Linked DNA regions of Homo sapiens: regions 1, 2, 3, 4, 6 and 7 are each linked to region 5. The links come from fine-mapping of genetic effects on gene expression. A gene starts in region 5. Each other region holds a variant in brackets. All regions are shown on one strand. Distances are from middle to middle.

What was found. PIP is the estimated chance that this variant, and not a neighbour inherited with it, causes the effect.
Region 1: its variant is fine-mapped to the expression of PATJ in cerebellum (GTEx, PIP above 0.99). The same link has a PIP of 0.9 or more in cerebellar hemisphere.
Region 2: its variant is fine-mapped to the expression of PATJ in whole blood (TOPMed, PIP above 0.99). The same link has a PIP of 0.9 or more in blood mononuclear cells, esophagus mucosa, esophagus muscle, fibroblasts, iPS cells and left ventricle.
Region 3: its variant is fine-mapped to the expression of PATJ in whole blood (INTERVAL, PIP above 0.99).
Region 4: its variant is fine-mapped to the expression of PATJ in atrial appendage (GTEx, PIP above 0.99).
Region 6: its variant is fine-mapped to the expression of PATJ in whole blood (TOPMed, PIP above 0.99).
Region 7: its variant is fine-mapped to the expression of PATJ in whole blood (TOPMed, PIP above 0.99). The same link has a PIP of 0.9 or more in sun-exposed skin.

Annotation. Positions count from the first base shown.
Region 1 is chr1:62,043,484-62,047,551 of GRCh38, forward strand. All of the region lies in intron 30 of PATJ (PATJ crumbs cell polarity complex component), which reads left to right. Among named protein-coding and RNA genes, the nearest start is that of MIR3116-1, 33 kb to the right of the region's middle. RefSeq lists an enhancer at 1,850-2,379. The variant G/A (reference allele first, on the strand shown) is at 2,212.
Region 2 is chr1:62,015,585-62,019,652 of GRCh38, forward strand. PATJ (PATJ crumbs cell polarity complex component) reads left to right here. Exons shown (of 44, transcript NM_001350145.3): 29 at 2,272-2,363. All of the region lies in intron 1 of LOC107984965 (a long non-coding RNA gene), which reads right to left. Among named protein-coding and RNA genes, the nearest start is that of MIR3116-1, 61 kb to the right of the region's middle. The variant A/G (reference allele first, on the strand shown) is at 2,367.
Region 3 is chr1:61,869,104-61,873,171 of GRCh38, forward strand. The region is part of intron 20 of PATJ (PATJ crumbs cell polarity complex component); the gene reads left to right. Among named protein-coding and RNA genes, the nearest start is that of MIR12132, 25 kb to the left of the region's middle. The variant T/A (reference allele first, on the strand shown) is at 2,461.
Region 4 is chr1:61,911,840-61,915,907 of GRCh38, forward strand. It overlaps PATJ (PATJ crumbs cell polarity complex component), which reads left to right. Exons shown (of 44, transcript NM_001350145.3): 26 at 2,748-2,825. Among named protein-coding and RNA genes, the nearest start is that of MIR12132, 68 kb to the left of the region's middle. The variant G/A (reference allele first, on the strand shown) is at 2,419.
Region 5 is chr1:61,740,145-61,744,212 of GRCh38, forward strand. It overlaps PATJ (PATJ crumbs cell polarity complex component), which reads left to right and starts at 2,336. Exons shown (of 44, transcript NM_001350145.3): 1 at 2,336-2,411. PATJ-DT (PATJ divergent transcript) reads right to left here and starts at 2,640. Exons shown (of 1, transcript NR_185910.1): 1 at 1,854-2,640. RefSeq lists a silencer at 2,088-2,797.
Region 6 is chr1:61,777,868-61,781,935 of GRCh38, forward strand. All of the region lies in intron 7 of PATJ (PATJ crumbs cell polarity complex component), which reads left to right. Among named protein-coding and RNA genes, the nearest start is that of PATJ-DT, 37 kb to the left of the region's middle. The variant ACAAT/A (reference allele first, on the strand shown) is at 2,064.
Region 7 is chr1:62,114,299-62,118,366 of GRCh38, forward strand. PATJ (PATJ crumbs cell polarity complex component) reads left to right here. Exons shown (of 44, transcript NM_001350145.3): 36 at 2,234-2,381; 37 at 2,834-2,920. Among named protein-coding and RNA genes, the nearest start is that of MIR3116-2, 37 kb to the left of the region's middle. The variant G/A (reference allele first, on the strand shown) is at 2,242.

The sequences.
Region 1 (4,068 bases), 300 kb after region 5:
AAGTATTAAGTAATGTTTATAAAAGGCTTAGCACTATTCCTGGCACATGATAAGACCTCATTTTTGTTGTGATTGTACTTATATTATCACAGCCCTCTAGTAGAACTCCCAGCCTCCAGCATCTTCCATTTTTAATAGTTACATACAAAACAGGATTTTTTTTCCTTTTAAAAACTAAATTGATAAAAATTGTATATATTTATCATATACAACATGATGGGTTTTTTTGTTTGGTTTTGGTTTGGGGGGGGCAGTTATTTTTTGAAACAGGATCTCGCTCTGTTGCCAGGCTGGAGTGCAGTGGCATGATCTCAGCTCACTGCATCCTCGACCTCCCAGGCTCAAATAATATTCCTGCCTCAGCCTCCTGAGCAGCTAGGACTATAGGCACGCACCACCATACCTGGCTACTATAAGATTTTTTTGCAGAGACAGAATCTCACTATGTTGCCCATGCCCAGTCTGCTGGGCTCGAGAGATCCTCCCACCTCAGCCCCTCGAGACAGTGCTGGAATTACAGGAGTGAGCCACTGCACCTGGCCAACATGATGTTTTGAAATATGTGTATGTTGTAGAATGGCTAAACAAGATAATTAACATATGTATTTCTTCCCGTACTTATTTTTGTGGTGAGAACAGTTGAAATCTACTTTCTTAGAGATTTTCAAGAATACAGTACATTGTTGTACATTGTTATTAACTGTGGTCACCCTGCTGTACAACAGATCTCTAGAACTTATTACTTTAACTGAAATTTTGCATCCTCTGACCAACATGTCTTCAACCTTCACCCCATCCACCAGCCCCTCCCACTACTCTCTGCTTCTATGAGTTCAACTTTTTAGATTCCACATTTAAATCCCAGAGGGTCTGAATTTCATTCTTTGGTTTCGGAGCTGTTGAAGGCATTTTGAACAATGAAACAATCTGATCAAGGCTGTACTCCAGAAAGATTAGTCTAATAGCAATGTTAAAGACATCTTGAAGAGGGAAACCCAATTAAGAAGCCATTGCTGTCGTCTAGTAAGAGGTACTGAGGGCTCAAATAACTTGGGTTCCGACATACTTATTCCATTTATTGACAGGACAGCCTAAATCTTTTAGAATATCTTCAATACAAACAAGGACCTCCTTTTTGCTTTCTTAGAAGTTGTGTTTTTTAAAGTACTAACTGAGATGGAACAGGCCTCATAAAGATCAGGGAGGTTGATCATGCAGGGAGTTCCATTAGCATAATTTCCATTTTATTTTAATTTTGCCTTGCCTTTCTAGAATTCTGAGCAGCCTAGTAAATAAGCTCACGTTTGGGGTTAGAAGAAAGAAATTCAGTTTGTCACATGTGGTAAACAAGGTTTTGCAGAGGGAAATATTTGTGAATTTAGGTTGGCGATGAGACTAAAATTATTTTGTGTGTTTTCTAAAAGAACATTGGATTTAGAAAATATGGGAATGGGCCAGGCACGGTGACTCACGCCTGTAATCCCGACACTCTGGGAGGCCGAGGCTGGCGGATCACCTGAGGTCAGGAGTTCAAGACCAGCCTGGCCAACATGGCGAAACCCCGTCTCTACTAAAAAAAATACAAAAATTAGCTGGGTGTGGTGGCGTGCGCCTGTAATCTCAGCTACTCGGGAGGCTGAGGCTGGAGAATCACTTGAACCCAGGAGGCGGAGGTTGCAGTGAGCTGAGATCGTGCCATTGCACTCCAGCCTGGGCAACAACCGTGAAACTCCGTCTCAAATAAAAAAAAAAAAAAGGAAATGTTTTTTCAATCCACAATAACATCCTTAACGAATTTAACTTTTATTGAATGCCTACTCTCAAATAAAATAGCATTCTTGCTATCAAGATTCGCTGTTCAGTTTGAAGAAAATTATAGACAAATGGTGGATATAAAAAAAAAGGAGTTTAAAATAATAAGCATTATCACTTCTGCAATCACTTATGTGGAAGATTTTGGGAGAGCCCAGGGGAGGGAATTTGGAACTTCCTAAAGGTCTGAAAAAGACTAACCTCAGTAGGGGTTGATCTGCAAACCTTACAAGTCTTGCCTTTTCTGTTTGTTCATCTACAAAACATAATTGACTGTGGAATCCACTGACTGTGATCTCATAGGGAGAAGTTGTTCTCCTTAAGCTGCCTGGCTGAGCAGGCAGCTTTGGACAGGTGGTTTGAAGATCAGCAAGAGACGACAGGAACACCCAGCCATCC[G/A]GATTAGCTGAGTCATCTTGGGTGTCAACTGGCCCCCATCCGTCAGCCAGATGGTCCTCAAACCACTCTAATTCACTCGTGCCTTAGAAATCACGCTGCTGACCTGTTTTCCCTTTCCCATATCAGACTCTTGGCTATTTTCCAAGCTCCTGGTGAGTGGGGTATTTTGAAGACTCCTTACCTCATGAGCCATTCTGTTCTCAGAGCAGAATCCACATTGTTGTGGCCAGGCACAGGGGCTCATGCCTGTAATCCCAGCACTTTGGGAGGCTAGGACCGAAGGAGTGCTTGAGCTCAGGAATTCAAGACCAGCCAGGGCAGCATGGTGAAACCCTGTCTCTACAAAAATTACAAAAAATTAGCCAGGCATGGTGGTGCATGCATGTAGTCCCAGCTACTTGGGAGGCTGAGGTGGGAGGATCACCTGGGCCCAAGAGGTCGAGGCTTCAGTGAGCTGTGATCATGCCACTGCACTCCAGCTTGGGTGACAGAGTGAGATGGTGAAGAAAAAAGAAAGGAAGGAAGGAAGGAAAGGAAGGAAGGGAGGGAGGGAGGGAGGGAGGGAAAGGATCCACATTGTTATGTTCTGTACCTCATTTTAGCATAAACATTACAACTTTAGCTCTACTTGTAATGTAACATGAATGTGAACATCAAACTGTTACAGACTTTAGCTCTCCTAGAAAGTAAATGCTTTATTGCTATCCTCCCTCAATTCCAACTTCCTTTTTGCCTGACTCCCAACTCCATCTAGATTTGGACTTCAAACCCTCCTCTACGGAGTCATCTCAGACTAAGAGGAAAAGTGGGGAGGCGTAGTACAGTTAAAAAGAGTATGGAATTTGAAGTAAAACAGACCTAGGGTGAAAAATGAATCAGGCAGTGGGAATGAATGAGGCCCAGATGCTCGATTCAAGGATCTTTCAGTCCCGTCAGGGAGATCAGTTCTGTACATGCATAATTAGGATACAAAAGAGATGAATGTTAAGTGACAGAGGAGGTTCAGGTAGAATGTTACAATTTAGAGGAAGGAGAGATGTCCCCCAGGTAAGGAGAAGGAAAAGATACAATGGAACAAGTGACATTTGAGACCTGGCTTTGAATGATAAATTCTGCTTCATTTGATCCTCTAGTTTCTAAGTGTGGGATGTGGTGTAGACATAGAGAGTATTTTTTGTTTCTATTCACATCTTAAAGGATGCATAGACTATTTGGAACCTAGACTGCTTTGCCCATGTTTTCTTAAATTTTACAGGTTGACGCATCCCTTAAACAGCTGTTTTCTCCTCTACTTTAGTATTCATTTTATAAAGACCAAGAATATCTTATCTTCAATATGCATATTGCTGAGAAATGTAAAAGTAAAGGTTCCTCTAATTTATTTAAGGAACGCTTTCCTTTCCCTAAGGGGACATGTGCATAATTAGATGAATGTTTTCAGCTGACGCCTCTTCATGTGAGAATCTCTCTCTTCTGGGACCAGAGGTGGTGGCCATTTGCAGGGTTACTAACAGAACCTGTGGGTTCGTTCTACAGTCTAATGTGCTGCAGCTACAAACATTAGCTATTTCTCTTTTTTTGAGACGGAGTCTCTCTCTGTTGCCCAGGCTGGAGTGCAGTGGCGTGATATCGGCTCACCGCAACCTCTGCCTCCTGGGTTCAAGCCATTCTCTTGCCTCAGCCTCCTGAGTAGCTGGGATTACAAGCACCCACCACCACGCCTGGCTAATTTTTTTGTATTTTTAGTAGAGACAGGGTTTCACCATCTTGCCCACTTGAACTCCTGACCTCGTGATCCACCCGTCTCAGCCTCCCAAAGTGCTGGGATTACAGGCGTGAGCCACCGCACCCAGCCCA
Region 2 (4,068 bases), 280 kb after region 5:
TGCAGTGGCGCAATCTCGGCTTGCTGTAACCTCTGCCTCCCAGGTTCAAGCTATTCTCCTGTCTCAGCCTCCCCAGTAGGTGGGACTACAGGTGTGTGCCACCACATCCAGCTAATTTTTGTTTTTTGTTTTTGTTTTTGTTTTTGTTTGGAGACAGAGTCTCAGTCTGTCACCCACACTGGAATGCAGTGGCGCCATCTCAGCTCCCAAGTAGCTGGGACGATAGACATGCACCACCACGCCCAGCTAACTTTTGTATTTTTTAGTAGAGATGGGGTTTCGCCATGTTGACCAGGCTGGTCTCGAACTCCTGGCCTCCAGTGATCCATCTGCCTCAGCCTCCCAAAGTGCTGACTATAGGCACCCAGCTGAATTTTTGTATTTTTAGTAGAGACAGGGTTTCACCATGTTGGCCAGGCTGGTCTCGAACTCCTGACCTCAAGTGATTTGCCTCCCTTGGCTTCCGAAAGTGCTGGGATTACAGGTGTGAGCCACTGTGCCCGGTGAGATTGATGATCTTGGTGCAGAACGAAAGCTGATAGAATAAGAGGCAGAGTGAGGAGGTAGCTCAAGATTGGTCTTTCCATCAGCCTTGGATATGAATCCCAGCTTTACCACTTAGGAAAGGTGATGGAAGGGCCACTTTTTAGATAGTTGAAAATACTATATTTTCATTTCATATTTTAAAGTGTTCACTTCCACATGCTGTCACATTATAACTATTTTGACAAAAAAATAACATTTTTAGATGTCTTGAAAGGAACATCAGGTGTGCCTTAAAATGCAAAATTCCAGAGACAGAACAAATTAGATGCTAATTGCAATTCCTTTTACTGTCCCTTATATGGTACACTATACTATCTCTTAAATAGTAGAAATTGTCAATGCCACACTTGAATAGGAATAGTATAGTTATAGATCATTAACTACTTTTTAAAGAGATAGAAGGAAAAAGTCAAAACTGTATGAGCTGTTATCAATTGGGTGAAATAAAATAAGAGAGTTTCCAGCTATCATCATAGTTTATCAGTGGGAAAATCAGGAATAAAGAAATTTAGAATTTAAATGTTGTTTAGGTCATCTTTTGGTAGATCCAATCAAGTTTAAAATTCTACCATGTCTTGGATATGAGCATATGACTCATTGATGGCGTTCAGTAAAATCTTTCTGTGTAGTTGGTTTAAAATTTGACTTAAAACAGGGATATAATATTTACCTTCCCTAGAGTAACAAATTTATGTTATGTAATAACCTTGACATGTTTACAAAATCATGTTTAATGGGCTCTCCAGAGCTCCAGTGAATACCACAATTTGGTCTGTTTTCAACATTTTTAAGGAATCTGGGAAAGCTGTAGGAAATGAAATATGTGTCCTAAACTTTTTGTATCAGGCTTAACTACTGCTTTCTTGAAGTTTAGCAAAAGGATAAAGGACTGTATGTTCTTCATTAACTGTAGTCAAAACTGAATTTAAGGATTTTTGATAGCTGTTTAGAATTACTGTTTGAATCTCTACTACAAAGAATATTAAGATTTTTAGCATTTGAGAGTCCTAATATACCCACTTAACAATCATTAGACTTACTTTGGGAGGCCAAGGCCTAAGGATCACATGGTCAGGAGTCCTAACCCAGCCTGGGCAACATGGTGAAACCCCATCTCTACTAAAAATACAAAAATTAGCCAGGCATGGTGGTGCACACCTGTCGTCCCAGCTACTCGGGAGGCTGAGGCAGGAGAATTGCTTGAACCTGGGAGGCAGAGGTTGCAGTGAGCCGAGATCATGCCACTGCACCCCATCCTGGGTGACTAAGCGAGACTCCGCCTCAAAAAAAAAAAAAAATCAGTAGACTTAGGGCCAGGTGTGGTGGCTCACACCTGTAGTCCCAGCACTTTGGGAGGCTGAGGCAGGCAGATCACTTGTGGCCAAGAGTTTAAGACCAACCCCAACCTAGCCAATATGGTGAAACCTCTTCTCTACTAAAAATACAAAAAAATTAGCCAGGCGTGGTGGCACATGCTGGTAATTCCAGCTACTCAGGAGGCTCAGGCATGAGAATCACTTGAACCGAGAAGGCGGAGGTTGCAGTGAGCCAAGATTGCACCATTGCACTCCAGCCTGGGCGACAGAGTGAGACTGTCTCAAAAAAAAAAAAAAAAAAGAAAAGAAAAGAAAAGAAATTCAGTAGACTTTATCATTTAATTCCAAGTATATACATATATACTTGTAGACATGTATAATTTAGTACATTGTGGTTTTTCCCAAACAGATAAACAATCAGATTCTGTATGGAAGAAGTCACCAAAATGCATCTGCCATTATTAAGACTGCCCCATCAAAGGTCAAGCTGGTTTTCATCAGGTA[A/G]GATTGCTAGATCTGGTTTTGCAAAATCAAAGACCTCTTCTGAAGATGTTATTAGTGTAAGACTATGTCATCTTTGATTTGTCTAGCGAAATCACTGTTCCTTCTAAAAACATATATTCCTTTTGTAACTGTCACTTCAAGAAAAGTATTGATTGTTTTGATTATGAGATTGTCTTATTTGCTTATGTTTCATGGGATAGAATTGGTAGCTGAGGCTAGTATTTATATTTCAGTTATAAAACATTCTTCCCTTTCTGGATCCATTTTTCCTGTATATAAATATAATGAAACCTGCTAACTTCTCTTCCTGTCACTACTATTTGGTACATTTGCTGAATCATTAATGTCTTCATTAAAGAACAAACAGGAAAACAGAACTGAGGACATTCTTAGGAGCTTCCTTTTAAGAGTGCTGGTGAGAAGCTCAGAGTAGAGAAGATGTTCAGCACTGCTGCCTAGAGTTGTGTTGTGTGTTTGGGGCTTCACATTTACTCAGACCTCCCTGCAAGCTGATTGAGCCCTCATGGTACAAGTAAATCAGAATTAGGAATCTTACTGTTTGTAGTCAACATTGCCACATTAGCAATAGAAATGAGGTTGTTTGATTCTCTTTACTGGACTGAAATGACAAGTAAATCTGAATTACTTTTAGGTCATGTACCTAACCCTCTATGTTCACTGTAGCTCTGCTTCTTTTTCCTTCTGGGACTCAGTTATCATCTGTAAAATGGGATAATAAAGCATCTCCCTCATTCATTGTGATATTTCAGAAATTGAAAATGCTCAATACAACATCTAGCATAGAGTAAGGGGTGAAAGAATGTTAGCTGCTATTTTAGGATTATGACAATCATTATTATTCTTCCCTTTCTCGTTAGTTACCAGCAGTAAGATCTGTCCATTCCCAGGGACCACTGGGATTAGGAGGTAGTTTTATTCCCAGCTTGGGCACTAACGTGATTGAAATATCCCTTCCCACTTCTACTTTGCTCCTGAAGAAATCCTACATTAGGGCCAGGCACGGTGGCTCACGTCTGTAATCCCAGCACTTTGGGAGGATCACCTGAGGATCACCTGAGATTAGGAGTTTGAGACGAGCCTGGCCAACATGGCGAAACCCTGTCTCTACTAAAAAATACAAAAAATTAGCCAGGTGTGATGGCGCACAACTCTACTCCCAGCTACTCAGGAGGCTGAGGCAAGAGAATTGGTTGAACCCAGGAGGCAGAGGCTGCAGTGAGCTGAGATCGCACCATTGCACTCCAGCCTGGACGACAGAGAGAGATTGTCTCAAAAAAAAAAAAAAAAGGCCGGGCATGGTGGCTCACTTTGGGAGGCTAAGGCAGGCAGATCACGAGGTCAGGAGTGCGAGACCAGCCTGGCCAAGCCAACATGGTGAAACCCTGTCTCTACTAAAAATACAAAAATTAGCCAGGTGTGGTGGCTACTCAGCTACTCAGGAGGCTGAGGCAGGAGAATTGCATCTTGAACTCAGGAGGCAGAGGTTGCAGTGAGCCGAGATCACGCCACTGCACTCCCACCTGGTTGACAAAGCGAGTCTCTGTCTCAAAAAAAAAAAGGAAATCCTATATTAGCATCCTTTTCTCTCATCTAGTGGCACTTTCTGGCTTTCTAGTTTTTCACTCTATTTTCAGAGAGTGAAAGCTTCCTCCTTCACCTATGTCTTTGTATATTAAGATGA
Region 3 (4,068 bases), 130 kb after region 5:
TTTTTTTTTTTTTTCTTTTTTGAGACGGAGTCTCGCTCTGTCGCCCAGGCTGGAGTGCAGTGGCGCCATCTCGGCTCACTGCAAGCTCCGCCTCCCGGGTTCACGCCATTCTCCTGCCTCAGCCTCCCAAGTAGCTGGGACTACAGGCGCCCGCCACTACGCCCGGCTAATTTTTTGTATTTTTAGTAGAGACGGGGTTTCACCGTTTTAGCCGGGATGGTCTCGATCTCCTGACCTCGTGATCCGCCCGCCTCGGCCTCCCAAAGTTAACATTTTTGATTATGTTGATAATTTTTTAAATGCAGGGCCACTGATCCTTCTGTTTGCTTATTGCCATTCCTCAAGAGGGCATTTATAGTAGCTTACTCTCAATCTTCCTGGGGGTCGACCCACCTCAAGAGGGAATGTTTGATAGCCTCATTTCCTAGAACTTGCTGCTTAGTCACATAAGGGAAGCTCTGAGAAGGCTTTTTTCTGCATCTGTTAAATCTAAAGTATCTTTAGTTTATAATAATCTTCATACTGAAGCCAGATAGTCCCCTGACCCCTTTGTGGGACTTGTGACAGAGGTGCCCTGTTTACTCAGCCCACTGCTCTCCTCGAGGGAGGGAGTGTGTGAGTGAACAAGGTGGGAACTGGAGTACATGCCTGCTGGAACCATCTGACTGCTTTGGCACTGGCAAGAGTAAACTCCACTCACTCAGACCTGCAGCGTTCACCCCTCATGGGAGGGGAGCACTCAGGTGAGCGGGTGCAGGAGCCTGGGCAAGCGCTTTTGGGTACTGGCAGGAGCAAATTCTGTGCAGGCCCAGCGGCAGCATCTAGGGGAGGTGCGTGCAATCCCCGAAGCCCCAGTGGGCGTGTTACGGTGATCTTTTAGCTCTGCCATCTGCGGACGGCTTAAGTGTTAACAGTTCAGTGAGCCCTCTGCCTTTTCACGTGAGGCCGCTGCCCTCTGCCAGCGAGGGCAAAGGGCCAGTGTGACAGCCTTTTGTATCCACACTTGTGGCTCCTGAGCGCTTTCTGGTATCCAGGAAAAATGAGGCTGCATGAATGAATTGAAGGATGGCAAATGCGGGGATTTTATTGCCAATAAAGTGGCTCTCAGTGGGAAGGGGAGCTGCAAAGGAGATGGGGAGGTGGGTAGGTAATCTTCCCCAGAAGTCCAGCCATCTCTGGCTGGATTATTCTCCAGAGTTTCACCATCAAGCTGTCCCTCTAAAGTCAAGCTGCTTTTCTCTGATGTCCAGCTGTAGTCCCTGACATCCAGCTGCTTCTTCTCTCTGCCAGCTGAGTCTAGGGTCTTTATAGGCACAGGATAGAGCAGGGCGAGGGCATGGGTGGTTTAGGAAAAGGTAACATTTGAGCAGGAAAACAGTTTGGGCCATGGTTTTAGGCTTGAGGGTGGGGTTTTGTCAGGGACCTGCCCTTAAATTTCTCTGCCTCCTGTCACTACCAATACCAACTCTGAGGTTCCTATAGGTCCCCACCATATATACCACATTTTGTTTTTCCATTCATCTGTTGATGGATATTTAGGTTGTTTCTACCTTTGGCCATTGCGAATAATGGTGTTATGAACATTGGTATATAAATATCTGTTGAAATCCCTGCTTTCAGTTCTTTTTAGTATATACTCAGCAGTGGAATTGCTGGATCATATGCTAATTCTATATTTAATTTTTGGGGAGCTATACTGTTCTCTACAGCAAGCAGCTGCACCAGTTTATATTTCCATTAGCAAAGCACAAGGTTTCAAATTTCTCCACAGTCTCTCCAACACTTGTTTGTTGGCTTTTTGTTTGCTTCTTAGGAGTATAAAGTGCTATCTTATGTTTTGTTTTGCATTATCCTAACAATTAGTGATATTGAGCATCCTTTCATGTGCTTATTTGGCCATCTTTATGTATTCTTTGGAGAAATGTCTGTTCAAGTCCTTTGTCCATTTTTTAAAGATTTGGTTTTTGTTTTTTTTGTTTTTTTTTTTTTGCCTGAGGGTTATTTACCTAAGAATAATTCTATGTTCTTATTTTCTTCTCTTTTTAGAAAAAAAAACTTCTCTATTTGAAAAAAAAAACCAGAAAAAAGAAATTCTTGTTTATTTAATTTATTTTTTATTTTTTTTGAGATGGAGTTTCACTCTTGTTGCTCAGGCTGAAGTGCAATGGTGCAATCTTGGCTCACCGCAACCTCTGCCACCCAGGTTCAAGCGATTCTCCTGCCTCAGCCTCCCAAGTAGGTGGGATTACAGGCATGCGCCACCATGCCTGGATAATTTTTTGTGTATATATATATATGTGTATATATATACATATATATGTACATATATATGTGTATATACACATATATATGCGTATATATATGTATATACATATATATGTGTATATATGTATATATACATATATACGCATATATATAAATATGTGTGTGTGTGTGTATATATATATATATATATTTTTT[T/A]TTTTTTTTTTTTTTTTGAGATGGAATCTCACTCTGTCACCCAAGCTGGAGTGCAGTGGTGTGATCTCGGCTCACTGCAGCCTCTGTATCCTGGGTTCAAGCAATTCTCCTACCTCAGCCTTCTGAGTAGCTGGTATTACAGGCACCCACCACCACGCCCAGCTAATTTTTGCATTTTTTAGTAGAGATGGGGTTTCACCACATTGGCCAGGCTGGTCTCAAACTCCTGACCTCAGGCTATCTGCCCACCCTGGCCTCCCAAAGTGCTGGGATTACAGGCGTGAGCCACCACGTCTGGCTTTTTTTTTTTTTTTGTATTTTTAGTAGAGACGGGGTTTCTCCATGTTGGTCAGGCTGGTCTTGAACTCCTGACCTCAAGTGGTCCACCCACCTCGGCCTCCCAAAGTGCTGGGATTACAGGCTTGAGCCACTGCTCCCAGCCAGAAATTCCTGTTTATAAATATCTCACCTATCATACCCAATGTATTGAAATCCCAGATTTGGATATCAATTTTCTTCTTCTTCATTTACTATTAACAGAATTACCATTAACTTTGTTTAAGAAGTCCAAATGGCCCCAAATTACAACCTTCTTCTTTTTAACTGCTCAGTTCCTTCCAAATCCTCACTGTTTTCTGTAAGAAGTTCTTGCTTATTTTATTCTAGGCAACTATGTAGTCAGATCCCCTTTCTTACCCCTATTTAATATTTGAGTTGAATTCTATGTTCCTTAGGCTCCATTAGTTATCTGATATAGTTACATACTTACCCGAGGCGAGCAAAAATCACCTGGTGACCATGAAGCAGACCATCTGGAGGCAAAACTCCTTATCTGAGGAATTTAGATGTATAATGAAGAGAGCAAAGATTACCTGGTGGTCATCAACTATGCCATCCAGAGGCAAAACTCCTTATCTGAGGAATTTAGAAGCAATTAGACTTCCCTGTTATCTAAAGCCAGCATCTGGTTACCAGGCTGCTTTCCCAAAAATTTATAAGTAGCTAGAATTTCTATATGTCTCCTGAATGCATGCATATCGAAACTCATTGTGCAGCCTTTGCTGACATCAAGGCACCAACATGTCTACAAATGTAATCAATCTATCATGACCTGCAAAACTAATAGGGTCCAAATTACCCTTACGCTCCTGCTTTAAGGTCTATAAATACCCCTAAGGAAAATCCTCGGAGGCCCACTCAGTCCTCTCTTGCTGAAGCGCCCCACTACAGTGTTCTTTCTGTCTAATAAAACTTGACTTTTCAAGCCTGTGCTGTTGTCAGTAAATTCTCTTTACTACCTGCGTGCCAATCACTTTCTGTTGCTGGGGCTCTGCTACCTTGCCCAGCATTACCAAATTCATAATCTACTTTGCAAAGCTGGAAGTATTTTGTATATCGGCTTATGAATGATCCTTCTCTTATCATTGAAGTCTGACCACTTTACAGAAAAAGTAGACCATTTTCAAAACAAAATTCACATTTTGTTTTGAACAACCAAAATTCCAGCAATAAAGAATAACATAGTGTTACCTTAAATAAATTATGGTACATCCCTAAGGTGGCTATAAAATAGTCATTTAAATTTGTACTGATAAAATTTCTTATTTT
Region 4 (4,068 bases), 170 kb after region 5:
GTTGTTATATGTATTAAACAGAGATAGAAATATTAGGTACTAGCACAGTGCCTCTTCACATAGCACTGTATATATGTTAATGTATCATTACTGCTGTTTTTTTACATAAATGACACATTTCTGAGACTTTCTCATTTATTCTAAACTTTATTTTCATTCTATATTAATATATATATATTTTTATATTAAAAAATTGGATATCTTCAGCTCATTATGTTTATCATCACGTGTTGCTTTCTTTCTTCCTGTATTCCAGTTGTGCTTACCAATACCATTGTTCTATAAGGGTACCTACTTTTTTTGACACATGAACATTTTGCATATTAATCACCTATAAATATATTTTTACTTTCACGAGAAATACAGTCTTCTGTTTTCCTGAAAGGTGGAGTCTCATTGAGCATTTTGTCTTCTAAATTTTGCTAAAGATATATGTACAGAAGAACATTTCTCTGCTATTTGAAAAACAGTGGGCTGGGCGCAGTGGCTCACGCCTGTAATCCCAGCACTTTCGGAGGCTGAGGTGAGAGGATCACTTGAGGTCTGGAGTTGGAGACCAGCCTGGCCAACATGGTGAAACCCTGTCTCTATTAAAAATAGAAAAAGTAGCTGAGTGCGGTGGTTTACACTTGTAACCTCAGCTACTTGGGAATGAGGCACAAGAATTGCTTGAACCTGGGAGACACAGGTTGCAGTGAGCCAAGACTGCACTGCAGTGGCCACTGCACTCCAGCCTGGGTGACAGAGTGAGACTCTGTCTCAACGAATGAACAAACCAATGAAAGAAAGAAAGATAAGAAAGAGAGAGAGAGGGAGGGAAGGAAGGGAGGGAGGGAGGGGAGGGGAGGGGAGGGAAGAGGGGAGGGGAAGGTAGAGAGGAGGGGAGGGGAGGGAAGGCAGCGTAAACATTGTGAGTGGCAGCTGACATTCTGTCTCATCCCAAAGCTTCTATTTAGCATCAGCTAGTTTTTCTATGGGAGAAAGTAGTAGTGTGGGCAGATAGTTTCTGACTTGTCAGGGAGGCAAAGTGTTTTGTTTAAGATTCTTCAGGACAAGGAACACATGCCTGTAAACCCCACCAGTCTTTGAAATCTGTCTTAGGTTGTTATATGTATTAAACAGAGATAGAAATATTAGGTTACTAGTAGCACAGTGCCTCTTCACATAGCACTGTATATATGTTAGTGTATCGTTACTGTTGTTTTTTACGTAAATGACACGTTTCTGAGACTTTCTCATTCTAAACTTTATTTACATTCTATATTAAAAATGAAAATTTAATCTTAAATTGCATTTAGGGGAAAATGGGCTTTTTGTTTTGTTTTTAATTATCTCCAGGCAGGCAGTCTTTTAATTTCCTGAGCAAGGAGTTTTTTTTTGTCTTTTTCTTTTTAATTTATTTATGTATTTTTTGAATCAGGATCTTGCCCTGTCACCCAGGCTGGTGTTCAGTGGTGCAATTGTGGCTCACTGTAGCCTCGACCTCAGCCCCACAAGTATCTGGGATTACAGGCGCACGCCAACACACCCAGCTAATTTGTAAATTTTTGTAGAGATGGAGTCTCCCTTTGTTGTCCAGGCTGGTCTCAAACTCCTGGACTCCAGCGATCCTCCTGCCTTAGCCTCTCAAAGTGCTGGGATTGCAGATATGAGCCACTATACTTGGTCTATTTTTTTCTTTTAATCTTCATGTCTCTCACCAGATTTTATGCCAAGATTATCTGTGCTAGCTCTTTGAGGAGCTTCTTTTTATAAAATTAAACTGGTTCGTTCATTTATAAACATTTATTATGTACAGCTATGTATTAGGCCATTTCTGAGCACCAGAGAAATAGTGAAAAATAACACTGAGTTCTACTCTCATTAAGCTTATTCAGTGGTGGGAATAGATTTGTTAATTCCTCCTTATGCTAATAGTGATAGTGGAATATTGAGTACACACAGTGTGGGAGATAACATGCTTGAACTGGGGGTACAATGATGAATAAGGTAAATCTGTCAAACAGATGTGTTATCCTATGTTCTTGGATAATTAATTAGATCACCCCTAAAACTCTATCTTGCAAAATGTGATGTTTGGACTACAGTCAGTATGTGAACTTGTTTTTAGTCTTTTTCGTCTTCAGCTTCTGGATCTACGTACAGAAACCTGCATTTTTATGCCCTGATGGCATATATATAACTTTATAATATTTTAGAGTTATGTATCTTCTCAGGCTTTCCAAGTTTTATTGTTTGCTTTGAATTGTACTTCTCATACTTTTACTCTTTAGATGAAGTTACAAAGTTAAGATTTTAGCTGTTTAAACAAATACATTAAGGAATGTAATGATAGGCCAGGCTCAGTGGCTCACGCCTGTAATCCCAGCACTTTGGGAGGCTGAGGCGGGCGGATCATCTGAGGTCAGGTATTTGAGA[G/A]CAGCTTGGCCAACATGGTGAAATTCCATCTCTACTAAAAATACAAAAATTAGCTGGGTGTGGTGGCAGGCGCCTATTACCCCAGCTACTCAGGAGGCTGAGGCTGGAGAAGCGCTTGAACCCAGGAGGCGGAGGTTACAGTGAGCAGAGATTGTGCCATTGCACTCCAGCCTGGGTGACAAGAGCGAATCTCCATCTCAGAAAAAGAAAAAAACAGAAATGTAATGATTGAAAAAAAATTCTCCATTGTGGAATGTCAAGAGAAAAAAAAGGAATGATTATGTCGTTTAAACGTTTTCTTCCCCCCACCCCTTTTTTTGTCACCATAGGTCATTCCTAACGTACATAACAAGGCCAACAAAATCACCGGTAACCAGAACCAGGACACCCAAGAAAAGAAAGAAAAGGTAACTTGAACCTCTCAAGGATTTAAAAAATGTTTTTGTTTTGTTTTTGTTTTTGTTTTCCATATCTGGGCTATAATAGAAGTGGCTTTTTGATGAGTGTCAGTGTTGTAGGAGCACTATATTTATAATTTTTTTCCCTGCAAATATGACTGGTTCTTACCAGGATGGAGGACAGAAACCTGGTGCAGCATAGATGCAAAAATACTATAAACGGCCAGTCAGCCATCAACGTCTATAGATTTCTTTCCTGTTCAGACAGGCTGGTTGTTTGTCCATTCCCAGAACATGCCTCTCACACTGAGACTTTGATCTTGCTGCTCTCGCCTGGAAGTCCATTTCCCACATTGCTCTCCCATAAGAATCCTTTTCATTCTTTAAGGACCACATCAAAGGTCATCTCTCCTGAGAAAACTATCCTTCCTGTCAATCAGAATTAATCCTCCATTCCTGTTTGCCCACCTCTATTAAAGTAGAATCTGTTGACCTAAAAATTATTTTAAGATGTGGTGTCAAGTAGGGATGAATTTTCATTTTTTCTCATCAAGAGAACTTGTTGTTCTCTTGGGGAATTACTGTCCCACTGTTTTAAAATAGACCTCCTTTACCCACTGATTTGCAGTCCAACTCTGCTGTATCTCAGGTTACAAGGGGGAGTCTGTTTCTAAGCTTTCTCTTTGTTCCATTTGATCAACTTGTCTATCCCAGTACAAATGCTGCACTGACGGAATTATTAAAGCCTAGTAATCAATCTTTTTTCCTGATAGAGCACTTTCTTTTATATGTTTCTTCTTCTTAGACATGTCTTAACTATTTATATCATTTTTATTTTCCATATCCATTTAGAATCAGATTATTAAATTCCACAAAAGTTTCTTTTGGGATTTTGGTTGGAATTTTGTTGAATCTATAGATTAACTTAGAAAGAAGTTATATCTTTTGGATGTTGAGACTTTTAAGCCATTAATATGATTTTTTAATTTGTTAAATTCTTTTATTTCTTTTAATTAATTTTTATAATTTTCTTTTCTTTCTTTTTTTTTTTTGTTTTTGGGAGACAGAGTCTTGCTCAGTCGCCAGGCCAGAGTGCAGTGGCGTGATCTTGGCTCACTTCAACCTCCACCTCCTGGGTTCAAGGGATTCTCCTGCCTCAGCCTCCCAAGTTGCTGGGATTACAGGCATGTGCCACCATGCCCAGCTAATTTCTGTATTTTTAGTAGAGACAAGGTTTCACCATGTTGGCCAG
Region 5 (4,068 bases):
AGGTAACATAGTGAGATTCAATTTCAATTTAAAAAATAAATAAATAAAAATAAATTTAAAAAGAAGAGACCAATGTTTGCAAGGTGATTCTTTGAGATAATTGGTCTCCACCTTTCTTTTTTTTCCTATTTAATTTTTATTATAGGTTCAGAGCTACATGCACAGGTTTGTAGGCCAGGTGCAGTGGCTCACGCCTGTAATCCCAGCACTTTTGGAGGCTGAGGCGGGTGGATCACGAGGTCAGGAGTTTGAGACCAGCCTGGCCAACGTGGTGAAACCCCATGTCTACTAAAAATACAAAAAATTAGCCGGGTGTGGTGGCTGGCACCTGTAATCCCAGCTACTCAGGAGGCTGAGGCAGGAGAATGGCTTGAACAGGGAGGCAGAGGTTGCAGTGAGCTGACTGTGCCACTGCACTCCAGCCTGGGCAACAGAGCGAGACTCTGTCTCAAAACAACAACAACAACAAAAAAACCAGGTTTGTTACATAGACAAATTGTAGGCCATGGGGTTTGATATACAGATTATTTCATCACCCAGGCAATAAGTATAGTACCTGATAGGTAGTTTTTCAATCCTCTCCCTTTTCCCACTCAATCTCCAACTTTATTTTGCCCCCGACTTGGAAAGCCTTTCCTTCTCCATTTTACCTAAATTAATCTCAGACTCTGGTTAAGACCTGTTTAAGTTCTAACCCATGCTTTCAAAAAACATAATAGATCTCTTCATTTTCTGAGGTCTGGCTTCCATCTGGCAATTTGCCTGTTATTTCCCTCAGTAGTTTGTTAGTTCCTAAAAAGCAGAAACCATGCTGATATTGTGTGTCTTCTTACCATGACTAACAAGTGTTACATTTCTTTTAAAACAAGGAAGCAAACTACAAAGCACCAAGTGCATGATCTTAATTTTATTTATTTATTTATTTATTTGAGATGGAGTCTTGCTCTGTCGCCCAGGCTGGTCTTGAACCCCTGGGCTCAAGTGATCCTCCGACTTCAGCCCCACAGAGTAGCTGGGACTACAAGCTCACGGCACCACTCCGGGCTAATTGTTGTTGTTGTTGTTGTTGTTGTTTTTGAGGCGGGGTCTCTCTCTGTCACCCAGGCTGGAGTGCAGTGGCAGGATCTTGGCTCACTGCAACCTCTGCCTCCTGGGTTCAAGTGATTCTCCTGCCTCAGCCTCCTGCGTAGAGGGGACTACGCATCCACCACACCCGGCTAATTTTTGTATTTGTAGTAGAGACGGGGTTTCATCATATTGGTCAGGCTGGTCTCGAACTCCTGACCTCGGGTGATCCACCCGCCTCGGCCTTCCAAAGTACTGGGATTACAAGCGTGAGCCACCGCGCCCCGCCTGAAAGTCTTTATGTTGTAGTTGTTTTGTATCTATTCCTCATCTTCCTGGGGACAGGGATACCATTTTACACATCTTCCCACAATCAATCACAGTGTTTAACAATTACTGTATGTACTCTATGAATAAGATACCTGAAGATTGATTCTCTTTATCGTTAATGTGTGGACTGTATCAGGCAAAGTAAAACCCCTATCATCAAAAGCCTAAAGTTATTAAAGGGAGTGGAAGAAGGCTATCGGGACATATTTTTCTCGAAGGTGTGACATCACAAATAAAAGAAAATTAACGTATAGTGAAATCATCACTGTAGTTAGAGTCAAAATGCCTTGCCTGTGTTCCAAACTTTGGGCCAGTCAACCTACAGGGTGCACGGTTTCCTCATTAGTTTCTTCAGAGAGTAAATGAGACATTGCATAAGCTAGCACCTAGCATACAGCAGGCAAATACTGCTGGATTTCTTTCTTCCACTAAATGAGAAGAAAATAATGACTCCCACATTTACACGTTTTAGAATATTTTATTTTGCGTCAGCGAATAGAGAAAACAAAGGAGGGATGAGAGAACAGGAAAGGAAAGGGGCAAAAAGACAAAGTGTTAAGCGGATTGACCCAACGCTTTCATCGATATCCTCCTCAATTTCCTTGATCTTGGGTCTCGCTCTACACGCAGGCCTCCAACCACACCGGTCTGTCCGGATCTCCCTCCCCGTCAGTGGCGGCTGTCCCCACCACGCGCGGTCTGATCCGCCACCCCGCCCCCACAGCCCACTTTTCCCAGGCCCTTGGCCATCCCGCGCCCGGTAGGAATTCACCTGCACGTAAACAGCCAGGGCAACCGTCCTCCCTCCTTGGAGCCCGCCTCCCGCGGCCCCGGGCTCCCTCCCCCGCCCCCTGCGCCACCCCGGTGCCCCGCCCCGGGCGGGGAGAGTCGGGGCGAGGGGAGGGCCTGCCAGGTGAGGCGCGGTCACCCTGGGCCTCTCACTTCCGCCCAGGTGAGGCAGGGCCGACACCGAGCCCGCCCGACCCGGGCTCCCACCTGCTCCTCCAGCGCACCAGGTAAAGCGTGAGGTCCCGGCTGTGCAGTGCGCGCTCGCCCCTGGGTGTCCCCGCGCCTGGAGGCCGGCCGGGGGCAGCTCCCTCGGGGCTTCCCGGGCCTGCCTGCCCTGCCCCCGCGCTCTCCCCGCCCGCCCGCCTGGAGTGGGTGGGAGCCGGAGGTGGAGGGCGCCGCCGGGCGCTCAGAGGGGCCGCGGCGAGGATGGGGCGCCCGCGGCGTGCGTCCGCGCTGACCCGGGAGGCGGGGCGGGGGCGCCGTCCTCCTGCGTCGGGCCCGGGTGACCCCACGGTGGTCCCCGCCCCGCCGCGCAGGGCTCGCCGAGGCCGCGGGCAGGGAGGGGCGCCGCCCCGCCTCCCCAGGCCTTTCGGGCCTCGAATCTCGGCCCACTGGTATTCGGGGGTGGCACGGATCCTATTTTGCGCCCAGATCGGTGCCCCTGTTTCGCTCCCAGAGCTGGGCGGAGTCTTTCCCTCCATCGGTGGCCGTGGAAGGAGGGAACGGGGTGAGGGGACAAAGAGGAGGGGGTGCTCAGAGCCGGGCTGAGGGGGCGACTTGGGCCCGGCCGCGTCGCGGCGCCTGGTCATCCCGTAGCGGAGGTTCCCAAGCCAGCGGTCAGGCCCTGGGCTCTGCCAGCCTTGCTGCGTAGATGGGGAGGTTCTGTCGGAAAGTGCTTCCAGCCTTAGGGGAAATTCCTGGACTCCTGCTTTTAAATCAAGCTCAGGAAAGCATTTTCAGATCACTCCCACTCTCCAAAGCGCCCCAGCCGTCCCGCACGCAGGCCGAATTAAGTGAACACCCCTTCACTTGGCACTTTGTCATATTTCCAAGTGGCTCTTGTCACTTTGAATTCCAGTTGGTTGTTTACTGGCTTGCCTCTGCCATTTAGAGGGTGCCCCTTTCAGGGCCTTATTTTTCGACTGCATTTAGGGTCTGGCTATTGGTAGGTGCGCGACAAGTGTTTCTTAAAGGAAGGCAGAAGCCTTTGGAAACCCAGAAGGACAATGTCGGTTCCACTGAGGATGATACTACCACATTCTGGGCTAAATTCCTATTGGCTGCAAATTAATTTGCACACATCTATTTGAAAGGAGTGGAGGCAGGGGCAGCGGTTAAAAACTTAAATCTGTTTGCAGCATTAGAAAATGTTAGGTGAGATTGAGCCTTTTAGCTAAAGTGAGCTTTGATGTTTTTAGGGCCCCTAATGGCCTTTAAGATGTTAACAATAACAACAACAACAAAACACTCCAAATGTGTTGAATTTATTTGGGAATGAGAAATGAGCGTTATAGCCCGAGGTGCACAGGCCTGGCAAGCCATATATGCATGGAAGAGGGGAGGGTAAAAGGAAACTTTTATTGGCAAAGTAAGTGCAGATAAGCTGCGTGAAAACAGAGTTTATTGGTTTTGCAGACTGAAAGCCAGAGTTGGCCATTGTTGAAGATGCCATTACTGGGCAGGTGTTATGGAGAGCATCTTATCAGGCCTGGCAACCTGCCTCATGCCTGTTATCTCAGCTACTTAGGAGGCTTAGGCAGGAGGATCGCTTGAGGCCAAGAGTTGGAGACCAGCCTGAGCAACATGGCTGTCTTTACAGAAAAAGCTTTTTAAATAGTCAGGTGTGTCGGGAGGTTGAGGCAGGGGAATTGCTTGAGCCCAGGA
Region 6 (4,068 bases), 38 kb after region 5:
AGGCTAATTTATTTTTATTTTTATTTTTTTGAGACAGGGTCTCACTCTGTCACCCAGGCTGGAGTGCAGTGGTGCTATCTTGGCTGACTGCAGCCTCTGCCTCTGGGGCTCAAGTGATCCCCCCACCTCAGCTTCTGGGGGAGCTGAGACTACAGACCCAGGCCACCATGCCTAGCTAGTTTTTCTATTTTTTGTAGAGGTGGGGTTTCACCATGTTGCCCAGGCTGATTTCAAATTCCTGAGCTCAAGTGATCCTCCCGCCTTGGCCTCCCAAAGTGCTGGAATTACAGGTGTGAGCCATTGCACCCGCCTGGCCTTATTTTTATTTTTTGTAGAGACAGTCTCGCTTTGTTTCCCAGGCTGGTCTCAAACTCCTGGCCTGAAGCGATCTTCCTGCTTAGGCCTTCCAAAGTGCTGGGATTATAGGTGTGAGCCACCATACCCAGCCTCAATATTTTCTGAAGACCAATATGTGATATGACAAAATAATATGTAGCTAAAAGATCCTTTCAAAAATCAAGATAGATCAGTGGATTTTAATAAAATAGTGTCTGAAAGTTTGTTGATATGGTTCCAGATTCTACATTGTAACTGTATAAGAAACCACCACTTGCCAAGTTTTGGTGTGTTATCAAAGAATAGGCTGAAAGGACTATTATAATACCCCTCCCCTTTCCAACTATATATCTGATTGAGGCCAGATATTCTTCATATACATCATCCAAAACAGTATATTGTAACATACTGAATGCAGAAGCAGATGAGTCCAGCTGTTTTAAGCCAGATATTAAAGAGATTTGTAAAAATATTAAACAGTCCCACTCTTACTAATATATATATATATAGAGAGAGAGATGGAGTCTTGCTCTGTTGCCCAGGCTGGAGTGCAGTGGTGCAGTCTTGGCTCACCACAACCTCTGCCTCCCAGGTTCAAGCGATTCTCCTACCTCAGGCTCCCAAGTAGCTGGGACTACAGGCATGTGCCACCATGCCTGGCTAATTTTTACATTTTTAATAGAGATGGGGTTTCACTATGTTGGCCAGGCTGGTCTGGAACTCCTGACCTTATGATCCATCTGCCTCGGCCTCCCAAAGTGCTAGGATTACAGGTGTGAGCCATCAAGCCTGGCGAATATTTTTTGTTTTGGAAAATATAGCTCTTTTAAAAATATAATGACATAATATACATAAATGATAAAAATTAACATACTAAATATTAAATATTTTAAAAATTCCTCAGTACCAATTTTTGCATATGTATACATTTGTGGATTCATCTTTACCAGATTTCTCCAGAGAAACAGAACCAATAGGACATGCGTGTGATTACTTTAAAAAAGATATTATTTTAAAAAATTGGCTCATGCCATGGTGGGGGCTGGCAAGTCCAAAATACGTAGGGAAGGCCAGGAGGCTGGAAACCCAGACAAGTGTTGATGTTGTAGTCTTGTGTTTGAGATCTATAGGGCAGGCCGGCAGAATGTCTGAGGAAGCTCTGTTACATTCTTGAGGCAGAATTTCTTCTCTAGGAAAGCTCAGTTTTTGCTTGTGAATTCTTCAACTGATTGGATGAGGCTCACCTACATCATTGAGGGTAATTTTCCTTTACTTAAAGTCAACTGTTTGTATATGCTAATCACATTTACAAAATACCTTTGCAGCAACATCTAGATTAGTGTTTGACCAAAACAGTCAGCACCACAGCCCAGATGACACATGTAATTTAACTGTTATACCATCATTACCACAATCAAGATAATGAGCGTATTCATTACCCCCAGCAGATTCCCGTACTACTTTGTAATTCCTATCCCTCCATCCTTAATAATTTTTAAGAATGTAAAGGAGTTCTGTCTTTATCCATTTAGTGTTGCTATAAGGAAATATCTGAGGATGGGTAATTTAAAATAGGTTTATTTAGCTTACAGCTCTGCTGGCTGGAAAATTGGGCATCTGGGGAAAACCTCAGGCTGCTTCCATGGTGGAAGGTGAAGGAGAGCCAGTGTGTGCAGAGATCACGTGGGCAGCGAGGAAGTGGTGGGTGGGGGGCAACTCTCTTTTTA[ACAAT/A]CAGAGTGAGAACTCACTGCACTAAGTAAACGCACTGCAGAGAACTCAGAGCAAGAACTCACTGCACCAAGCCATTCATGAGGGATTCACCCCCATGACCCAAACACCTCCCACTGGGCCCCACCTCAAACAATGGGGATGAGATTTCAACATGAGGTTTGGGGGGGACAAACATCCAAACTGTAGCAAGTTCTGAGACCAGAATGTTTGAGAATGTTCATTTTATAGACCTTTAAAACACATCTGTGGCTGGGTGCAGTGGCTCATGCCTGTAATCCCAACACTTTGGGAGGCCGAGCTGGGTGGATCACTTGAGGTCAGGAGTTCGAGACCAGCCTGGCCAACATGGTGAAACCCCGTCGCTACTAAAAATACAAAAAATTAGCCAGGTGTGGAGGTGCATGCCCATAATCCCAGCTACTCAGGAGGCTGAGGCATGAGAATTGCTTGAACCTGGGAGGCAGAGGTTGCAGTGAGCCAAGATCACGCCACAGCACTGCAGCCTGGGCGACAGAGCAAGACTCTTTCTCAAAACAAACAAACAAACAAAAACCACACACATCTGTGGCACAACACAATATTCTTTAAGGATTCTTAAAAAAAATTTTTATAACCTGGAAATAATAAAATATTGCAGAAAATTTTGGGATGCCTTTCTTTGTATTCCCTCCCTCCTCCTGCCTCTGCCTTAGCAATTTTAATAGGTTTGTTTGTTGGAGTGGCATTTTTTTTTTTCCAAAATGCAAAGTGGAGTGGTTATTGTGAACAACAAAGGGTCAAGTAAATTTAAACAAAATCCAATAGGTTTCTTTACTGTAAGAATTTTCTGAGCTTTTAAAATACTAACATGCTTTATGAATTTTCACAAGAATAAGATGTGCAGAGTTTCCCAGATTAATCCCATTGAGGCATTGTTGGAAAAAGCCCAAGTCTGATTTTCGCCCTTTACTGGAAGGGATCGTCACTATTTCAGATCATCAAAGAGGAGGTAGAGGGTATGCTTGTCATAGGGTCATAAGTGCTCAAAGAGAAGGAAGTACTTACGCCAGACATTGTTATCTGCTTAATGTACATTATTCTCATGTAACCTTCAAAATACTCTTAGAAGTTTTATTCCCAAATTATAGATATGGAAACCATTAAGAAATTGCCCTAGGTTACAGCAGCTAGGTGAGCCACAAAGTCAGGATTGAGCCCGTACCTGTTTGATTCTGAAGTCTGAGCTTTGTTGTTTGAATTTATCCAAAGTTAATCCTAGTGTTTTCCTTTTCCTGATATACACCTGTGCACAATTGTTCACATCCATCAACAGGGAGTAGCCAGCTCTAGGAACAAGAGAGCTATTATCTCTTCTAGGGCATATGGTAAGGCCTAGCCATAGGGGACAGAGCACTATTCACTTCTCCTTTCCTCTCATGTCAGCTGATGGCAGATAAAATCTCTTCAGCCTTCTTGCTATAACCAACTTATCTCCTTCCTCAGCCTGGCCCCATTTGTTGCTTATTACCAGTCAATGTTATGCTTTCTATAACTCATGAAATGACTTAAGCTGCAGCACCCTCAGGCCCTAGGCTATGGCACAAGATGTGGTATACACCCTCCCTATTATCTACCTTTGGAGAAATTCTCAGCACACCTACATCCAAATTAGCCTCTGAAAGGAAAGAGCATAGGATTATAGTGTGTGAGCTTTAGAATCAGACAGATGAAGGCTTGAATTCTGGATCCACCTCTCACCCTGGGCAATTGACTTCTTGGCTTAATTCTATGTTTCTAAAATAGTCCCCAAGACCACTAGATTTGATGACTTGCTAGGAGGTTTCATAGGACTCAGCATACAGTTACACCCACAGCTATATTTATTACAGTGAAAGAATACAAAGCAAAATCAACATGGAAAAGGTGCATGAGGTGGAGACTGGAGGAAACCAGGCACAAGCTTCCACGAGTCCGCTCCCCATGGAGTCATATAGGACAGACACACTTAAGTCTTCCAGTGGT
Region 7 (4,068 bases), 370 kb after region 5:
TGCCTGTGAACACTGAAAGAGAAAGCCTAATGTAAAGTAGTGATGGGATTTCTAAAAATAAGATATTTATGAAAATTTGACAACATGGGTCATATTTCTGAGCAAGGTCTTACCAGAAAAATTGTCATATCAAGATAGAACTCCAAGTCCAATCAATCCAGACTGATATATTTCTGTACAGAGTAAGAACAACTAGCAAGGTTCTTTCACTTGGAATTACTAAGATCGGAGTTTTGCAGAGGTTGATTAAAGCAACCATACCCAAGAAATAGCTAGCATCAAGAATGAGATTTATCCAATGTTGGGTCAAGAACATTGCTTCGACATGGAAATTAACATGGAACATTGCTTTTCGTGATACTGTTAATTTCATACTATGTTGAAACTAGTTGAGTAGACATAGTTAAGAGATAAACATAATTCTTCACGATAGTAGTTTTCTATTAAGAAAAATGTCCTGCTGGGCACAGTGGCATGTACCTGTTGTCTCAGCTATGTGGGAAGATCACTTGAGGCCAGGAGTTCAAGGCTATAGTGTGCTATGATCATGCCTGTGAATAGCCACTGCACTTGAGCCTCTTGGGAAACATAACAAGACCCCATCTGTAAATTAAAAAAAAAAAAAAGAAAAGGAAAAAAGAAAGATGTCCCCAAAGTAATAGTTTGCACCAAAAATGTAGGTAGGTAGATCCTAGTGGCCAGGCTACTCTTTTGAAATATATGTTGCTGCCAGATGCAGTGGCTCATGCCTGTAGTCCCAGCACTTTGGGAGGCCGAGGTGGGTGGATCACCTGAGGTCAGGAGTTCAAGACCAGCCTGACCAATATGGTGAAACCCCATCTCTACTAAAAAATACAAAAAATTAGCCAGGCATAGTGGCAGACGCCTGTAATCCCAGCTACTTGGGAGACTGAGGCAGGAGAATTGCTTGAACTTGGGAGGTGGAGGTTGCAGTGAGCTGAGATCACGCCATTGCATTCCAGCCTGTGCAACAAGAGCGAAACTCCATCTCAAAAATAAATAAATAAATAAAAAGAGGTATATGTTGCCTAGGCCAGGCATAGTGGCTCACGTCTATAATCCCAACACTTTGGGAAGCTGAGTTGGGAGGATCGCTTGAGGTGAGGAGTTCAATATCAGTCTGGCAACATAGCAAGACTTGTCTCTAAAAAAATTTTTTAAATAAAGAAAAATGAAGTCTATACTGCTTAACAGTCGTTTGTTCCAGGATAATATTACTAAGTTTCTCTTGCAGTGAATTGGAAAGGTAAGTAATAGCTTGAAACAAAGCCTAGCTTCCATGGTTTACTGGCTTTTAGGTATCTAGTATGTATTTATCCCAACAGGGCTATAGGATTTCCAGGTAATATCCTAATATGGCCTTAAAGTGTATCAACCATCTTGTTAAGGAAGAAATCAAGTTGCTTTTATGCATGTTATGTTATATGCCCTCACAGACCTCTGGTGACTAGCCTAGTGTCTGTCCAGCAGGCCAAGCTGTTATTAAAATAAAAATATTAGCTACAATTTTTGAGTACTGATTTTGGGCCAAGTATTGTGCTGTCATAATTTCATTTTTTTTTACTTCAGCACCATAGAACCATCACTCTGAAAATGCATTACCAAACAAAAAAAGCTGAGTCTCTTACATTTCTAAACAAAAATCAGTGCACATCTGGGTGCAGAGCAACTGACAGAGCCAGTGTTGAAGTTTGCTTTCTTGTTTTGACACATGCGTATACCTGGTGCGGTTTTATTTACAGCAATGTTTTTTGCTTTTAGTGAATGTCAGTATTTCAGGTTGAGTTTGTAAGGAACATTTACATTCCTTAGCACAAAAACTTGCATTGTAAAGGATGAGATGTATAGTTCTCAAAAGTCACTATTTTCTTTGACTAACAATTCCATCACCAGGACTTTATCTTAAAGATATACTTACAAGTATTCATTGCTCATTGCAATAGTTAAAGAATGGAAATAACCTGTATGTCCATCAGTAAGCTACTGGTAAGTGAAATTATGAAACATCATAGAATAGTATGTAGCTATTTAAAAAATGAGGAAGCTCCAAGTGCTGATAAAGGCAAATTACCAAGGTATGAAAGAAACAAAAAGAAAACAAAACTGGAAGAAGAAAGGAGCATATATGTGTGTGCATCCTGTCACACACACACGTATTATGCATGGAAATATTAGGTTGTGCCAATACTGCACTGCTGTATGGTATTAACAGAAATGGAA[G/A]CGGAGTGTTTATTTCTGACATCGTGAAAGGCGGAGCCGCAGACCTGGATGGGAGATTGATTCAGGGAGATCAGATCTTATCTGTGAATGGGGAGGACATGAGAAATGCCTCACAGGAGACAGTGGCCACCATCCTCAAGGTGAGTTGCTAGGCTGCTTTTTACCCAGCTGGCACAACTGAAGTCCAGTGGGAACTGTTCCAGTCTAGCTTGATTATAAAATGGGTTGGATTTTATACTAACTCTAGTTTTTACTAGAAATTTAATCTCTGATTATTTTAAATGAGCCAGAATAGCTTTAAAAGAAAGTTCTGTTATATTGACTAACAGAATGAAAGGGAACCTGCTTTGGGATTTCACAAGCAAGTTTTTCATACTTGTGAGAATTCTAAGTATCCATCACTGTTCTTTAAATGCATTTGATGAGATGGGCCCTCCAGGAGCCACAGAATTCATCCTCCTCTCTCTAGGGCTATGCCTGTTGCTTTCATTACCCTTTTATAATTTGTGGCTGCAGGGAGAGGCTCTGTTAAGATATTTCAGAATATAAATGCTACTACTTTTCATTTCTGTTCTTTTCTTGCCTTTCCAAGTGTGCACAGGGACTTGTGCAGCTAGAGATTGGAAGACTCCGAGCTGGTTCCTGGACCTCCGCAAGGACGACATCACAGAACAGTCAGGTTGTCGATGGCTTCTCATCAGACTGACTCACTCTTCTGCCCCCACTGGGAGAAAGTTCCCCATTTAATAAATGGTTGTTTGGAAATAATATCTAATGTACAGCATATTCACAGCACCAAGTTTAGTGAACTTTCATGTGTTTGAAATAAAAATGAAAGGTGGGATGGAAATTCATTAATCCCTAGATTTTTCTCTCCTTTATTGCTTGCAAATGTTTTCTTGGAAGCTCTTTTCTCTCTATTAGTTCTATATTGCCTATGCACGCATGTACACAGCTGTGTTTATTTAAAAAAAAAAAAAGGCAACATCTGGTGGCAATTTGACCCTCATTAGCACAACATTGTTCTATTCATTCAATTAAATATTGCTATAAAGTTAACTTGTGACTAGCCACTCACACATGCCGAGGGCAATTAATGGCATATTCCTAGGAGAACCAAGTGTGGGGGTTTTTCCTGTGGGAGGGAGGGCTTAGTGGGTGATATTTTGTGGGTTAGCAAACATCTTATATTTATTTGCAAAGCTGATGTAAGTGCCATTTTTTTTTAGCAAAGTATATTTCACTATATTTTTTTCATTGTAATGGCTGACAAAATCAAGATGGTAGACTGTATGGTTAGCCCCATGTGGTACATAATGAGACTATAGAAACTTATATGTGACCCCTAAGTCTCCTCTCTGGGTTATGGATAGGCCGCCTTAGTTTTGAGGTTAAAAGCATGACTTTTGGTCCCCTCCCTGGTTGCCTTATTTCTGAAGCCTCTCCAAGGCCTTTGTTCAGAAGGTGCTCTGATCTTACAGTTAGCACACAGTTACTTCTGGAAAGCTATTAGCTGCCTCCTGTTCCTCACTGGTGTTAAAAAATGAGTGAGGAAAATACCATTGTTCAGATAGGATTACAGACTAGCTGGCTTGTCTTAGGGAATCTTCAAAGCAGTCAAACCCAATAAACACCATATTAAGTTTGAAACACTTTTTTTTTTTTTCATTTCTGGCTTACATAATGGGCAGCAAATATCTAAGACATGGTGCTGCTGTAGGATTCCATGAGTTAATAGTTAGTGATGATATTGACCAGACTTATATCAACAAACGAAACAGTTGTCTAGCCAGGCTTCTTCCTTAATGGAAGACTCATCTTTGTTGA